2 separate regions of the Homo sapiens genome follow, and region 1 is linked to region 2. Evidence: fine-mapped expression QTL. A gene starts in region 2. The other region holds a variant in brackets. All regions are shown on one strand. Distances are between the middles of the regions.

Evidence for each region. PIP is the estimated chance that this variant, and not a neighbour inherited with it, causes the effect.
Region 1: its variant is the best candidate, but not a certain one, in a credible set for the expression of LRRC40 in blood mononuclear cells (TOPMed, PIP 0.79).

Annotation. Positions count from the first base shown.
Region 1 is chr1:69,804,032-69,806,954 of GRCh38, reverse strand. The region is part of intron 4 of LRRC7 (leucine rich repeat containing 7); the gene reads right to left. Among named protein-coding and RNA genes, the nearest start is that of LRRC7-AS1, 240 kb to the left of the region's middle. The variant A/C (reference allele first, on the strand shown) is at 1,313.
Region 2 is chr1:70,204,441-70,207,313 of GRCh38, reverse strand. It overlaps LRRC40 (leucine rich repeat containing 40), which reads left to right and starts at 1,735. Exons shown (of 15, transcript NM_017768.5): 1 at 1,735-1,924. The coding sequence starts at 1,774. It also overlaps a transcript of SRSF11 not described here. RefSeq lists enhancers at 1,512-1,821, 2,082-2,141.

The DNA of each region.
Region 1 (2,923 bases), 400 kb after region 2:
CAATAGCTATTGGAGCAAGTAAGAAGAGATGCCTCCTTAAAATTGTCTGAGTATCAGCCTGAAGCAATTATAGCTGATGGTATCATTTATAGAGAAGATGATGGAAAAAATGACAAAGCTGACACCAGGAATCTTCATGTCTACCATTCTTATTTTGGTGTATAGGCAAACAGCCACATACACTAAAAAGAAAGTTCAATACCAAACTCATAATGAACTCAAGTCAACACAGATATATTAAATTTCATTGATTACACTCATTTAACCATGGTAATGCAATAAGAAACATTGCTAGGATAATTTATGACCACAGTGATTAAAACAAAATTAAAAATGGGGCAATACTCTATTGAGTAGGAAGTGCAGATTATAGGGAGATTTCAGAAGGGAAACAAACATATTGTATACTAGAAGAAAAAATAGGCAAGACTCTGCCTATTTTAGTAGCATTGTAAAGTGAAAAACCAAATGCTGGTAATCAATAGAGAGAGTCATACGACTGATTCTGCCTTACAAACACATCTGAGGAAAATTTTGAGGAGTGCTTATGACCTTGGCCAACAGTAAGTTCACATGGGAATGAATTTGACTTTTAGTCTAAATGAGTTAATTTAAGTGACACTTCAATTCCTCTTGTTCTCGCTCTCTTTCTCTCTCTCTGCTTCAACAACAAACACATTGAGTCTTTTATGTGAAATGAACTGTTTAATAATCTTGCTTCATACTCGACAAATGAATTTTTCCTTCCTTATCAATTTACCACTTTATTGAGCACTCACTATGCCTGGACATCGATAGGGGCTATTGTGGATCTAGAAACAAGGTAACGTTCATTCTTGTTTTCAAGGAGTTTACACTGAAGCTGCAAGGTAGCATGGCATTGTAGAGGAAGGACTCACAATGCTTCATTGCCCATTTAAGTTTGCTCTTTTAATTTTTTTTTAAGGATCTACTGAGACATGGAAGACAGGTTCATCACTTAGCTCTGCTGCAACTCTAGGAAAATTGATCAGTTTATGTAAAAGAGCCCAAGACAGATTTCAAAAGGGTGAGGAAGTGTTCTTCCTTGTATTTAGTACATAACCAGATTGTAAGTTTTATCTCCCATGGAATAAGTGCTAGTGAAACACATAAGGCATTATTTGTTTATTTTATGTCCTAATGAAAATATTAGAAAGAGTTAAAAGTTCCAGCATTAAGCTGAAAAGGTGGCAGGAGGAAATGATAATAATAAAAAAACCTAGGTTTTGTTACCATGATGTTCTTTAATGGAAACAGAAGGAGTCAATCCTCAGTTTACTTTAACACCATA[A/C]CCCAGAGGAGAAGTAGATTCTGTACAAAGGGAAGGTAGTCTTAAAGTGAAAGAAGTGCTAGTGATCACATTTCAGATAAATAACTCATTAACAGTGTTGAAAGTGAGATATTTAATAGAATAAAATAATGAGCTTTACTCTAAATAAATGGTGTAATGGTTTGCCAAACACCAGAGAACACATTTATTGCTTATTGAGAACAATTGCATGGTACCATTTTCTCCCTGACACAAGGCGTCACAGAGTAGACCCCTTTATGAATTTATAATGTATACACTACTAGAGTCTCAAGAGTAATGTGCTCAGATGTTTAAAGATTTCTATCATTTAACTGATTACCCATATATGCTTTTTCTAGCCTATTTGAGAGAAAAAAAGTCCGCCTCCTATCCTTCAAGTAGAGGATATGATTTGTCTTCAGTGTTTTGCATGTATTTGAGGGAAGGGGTGGAATAGTTGGCAAGTTGGTAAAACACATAATAATGCCTTCAATTCTGATTGCCTTTCATGATAACTAACAATAATGATTTTTTTCCCACTATGATGCTGTGCAAATCCATTCTTGTATAGAAATAAGTTTTAGTGGATGAGAGAAAAATCACTTAATTGCTGCAGAATTAGAAGCACTTTCAAATTAATTCATTTTCATTAAAGTCCTTAAATTATAGTGTCGTAGTCTCTATAAAGCAATGACAAATCAACAATCAGACTTGAAATAGAATCACTGCCTAATTAAATCTTATAATTCATTATGGTGCTTTATCATACAAAACAAAACAATTTACTTCATTATGACCAGGTATTGTCTCCACAAACATGCATGGACTACTTATTTAGAAATCATAATATCATGAAATGTATTCATCTCTGATGCACATAGGAGTTTTATTTTACTGTTGAATTAAGATGAGAGGAATCATGGACAAAAATTCATTGGCATAGAAAGCTGATGCATTTACTTATAAATTGCTGCATATAATTAGGGAACAAAAAGAATTTAGAAAGGAAGAATAATTTACATGCAATGTAGATATTTATATATTTCCTCTAGATAGCTGGCTAGCTAACCAGGTTTTAGTAAAACTAACCAAAATTTCTTTAGAAAGTTCAATGTTAATATACTTATTTTTTCAAAGAAAGAATATCTTTTACTGAACATAAGAGATCAAAACTTCATTTTCCAGTTCATTTATTTCCAGCTCATTAGGTGTTTTTAATGTTCCAAGAAGGTAAATATTTCAAGTATTGGGTACTCTCAATGTTCCAGGTATGTAAAAATCATAAAATGTGGTATTTGTCTTAGAGAAGTTTATAATGTAATGGAGAATAAAGTGTACAATTAGTAGATCTCTAGCCTATACCTAATAATAAAAGAATATATATTTTTATTACAAGCAAGAAGAAACATTTGAAAAATTAACAATATACTTGGCCACAATGTGAAAGGCAATAACTAATAAGAACTCAGTATCATCAAAACCATGTAGTCTGCAATGTATTTCAATAAAAACAACGGTGAATAAAAAGGTCCCAAATGTATTAGAGCACCAGAAAACAATTTAGTAAACCATAAGAAAGTAAAAGAAGGGACATAATAATGATAGCTGCAG
Region 2 (2,873 bases):
TAGCACTGAGCCTGGTATGGGCCCAATAAGGCAGCTATTACCATTACTGTGAAGACAAGCTGACCAGGGACCTCATTAATAACGTTGCAAAAGCTGCTACGGTCGTTTTCCTTTAAAACTCAGGCTGGGCACGGCGACTGACACCTGTAATCCCAGCACTTTGGGAGGCCGAACTGGGCGGATCGCTTGAGGCTGGGAGTTCGAGACCAGCCTGACCAACATGGCGAAACTCCGTCTCTACTAAAAAATATAAAAATTAGCCAGGTGTGGTGGTGCGCGGCTATAATCCCAGCTACTGGAGAGGCTGAGGCAGGAGAATCACTTGAACCTGGGAGGCGGAGGTTGCAGTGAGCCGGGATCACGCCACTGCATTCCAGCCTAGGCGACAGACCAGACTTTGTCTCAAAAAAAAAAAAAAAAAAAAGACAAAAATCCACTCTTTGCTTTTTTAGTAGGGTAACAACTATTGGTAACTTTCTCTTGTTCGATATTAGTGTAAAGGACTCCACAGAAATAAGAACAAAAAGGGTAGAGTTAAAAACCGAATTTTACAGGTAGCAATAACCTGGACTCAGGTAAAAGTGCGTGATGAAGAATTGATCAAAGGGCCTTCATCCTAGCTTTCAACTATTCTACCAATCCTCAGTAGACTTGATGGGGGTTAGAATGGTATTCCCTGGCATATGCTTTTAAAACAAAATCATTTCAGGCAAAAGAAAAGTCTAGCACCCAGGATAGTACACATACTAGGCAGGATTAATCTTAATAATTACTTGTTGAATCAAGAAGTTGTACATTTCAGATGAAAATTTTAATTTCCTAGGAAACACCGACTTACATTGAACAAAATTTTCATTTGCTATTATTCTGGACTCACCGAGAGCTCAAGATTCTAGTTTTTATCTTCACTTATTTCAAAAACCTTATGCGGTAGGAATTATCCCCAAAGTAATGAAAAAAAGGAATGAGCTTTAAAAGCGGTTGAGTAAACTGCCTAAAGTTAACAGTTTCTAAAGTAAAGAAGCAGCTGAGATTTGAACTTGCTTTTTAGGGCTCAAAAATCCAAGCTGTCTGAGCTTCACTAAAGCATGTACCACTACTTGTCTCCCTAAACTGTCTGATACACAGAACATTTATTAAATTTTAAGGATTTTTGTTTTTGTCTTCTATGTTGCCAGTCCTTCCATTTCACATTACCTCCTTTGCTGGGTAAGCTATATACCCTCAATACAACGAGAATGGTGTCAGAGTACAAGCCTTAAGAACAGAAAATTTCTTTTACTCCGTACGCCAGAGGTCTGGCGCCACCACCACAAGCGACAAACACAGGCTGGGGTCCAGAAACGCTGCCGACCGCGCCCAGATCTCAAGTTTTAGTCAAGGCCCACGTTCAGACTAGGAGAGGGGAGAAGAGAGGGTTCTCTTTCCCCACACCCTCGCCACGGTGGAAGCACAGAGGAGAAGGTTGGAGTCGCAGTAACAGTGCAAACAATAAACCCGAAAGCCCCTCTTAAGCCCGTTAAACGCACTTACTTGATTGAAGTAATTCCAGGACGCTAGGCCGGCACCGGCAACGGAAAAGGCTTCTCTGTCCTCCAGCCCAGGCGCTGGTGCTGACGACATCTGGACTGCGCCGCAGAGAGTGAAGGCCCAGCGCGAGGCCGCGAGCCCAGCGCCCAGAGCGCGCGCTCACGAAAGGAGCGGGGCATCCCAACGGCGCCACCTTTAAGCGTCACGGGTGGGGCTGCAGCTTCTGGACCTAGGACTTTGAACATGTCGCGCCTGAAGCGGATAGCGGGGCAGGATCTCCGCGCTGGTTTCAAAGCAGGTGGAAGAGACTGCGGTACCTCGGTACCCCAAGGGCTGTTGAAGGCAGCGAGGAAGAGCGGCCAGTTAAACCTGTCGGGTAGAAACCTCAGTGAAGGTAAGACCCAGAGGTACGACCCTATTGTGTCTCCTGTCAGAAAGCCTTTGGCCCAGGCAACCTCCCTTTTCTCTGGGCTGGCTTTGGCCCCCTTTCTCAGACTGCTAGCCAGAATTTCTGTGCTCTAATCTAATCCCTGTGCTCATTTCGACCGGTTTGGTTAGCCCAGTTCAGTTCCTTCCCAGGTTCCCGCAATCTCTGTTAAAGGGACCCTGCTAAAAATACGGTCTAAATTTAAACGGGGCGCTTTCTGGGATTCCCACATTCTGTGGGATAAGCAACATAATATGTGACGAAACCAGCTATCAAATCACGGGCAAATCTTTTGTTTCTTTGGCCCTTATTTTCCTCCTCTTATTGTAATCTTCAAGGGCAATTACCAAAGCTAAAATTATATGTTTTATCGGCCCCTTTGTGAACCTGCACTGTTCCCTGCCGAGACGCTCTTCTGTATGCAGCTGTGCAGAGTTCTACTTACAAGGAATAATGAGTATATTTTCTAAGTTGAAGATCAGGATAGATGCCACACAGAGTGTTTGAATGTGGGGACATCCTGAGAAACCTGTTAAAGACCAAGAAGCACAAATCTGGGTACCATGAATGAATGGCCAGATGCTCTTCTGATTGTCGTGTGTGTGTGTGTGTGTGTGTGTGTGTAAGAGAGAGAGGGAGGGGAATGGAGAGATGGAGAAATAGAGCATTTTTCCTGTAATGTTTTTCTTCATTTATATTTAGGTTTTAAGACTGATTAAAACCTTCCATTTTCCTTCTAATGATTGCTTTCTTATTGTGACATGTATAAAGTAGATTAGGCAAGCAAATGCTTCTGAATGAATGAAAAGACACAGAATCCTTACTCCACCTAAAAGAGTTTTTGATCAATGGGAACATACTCATTTTCAAACTACAGTTGTGCATATATATATATCTACTTGGTTTCCCCAAAACC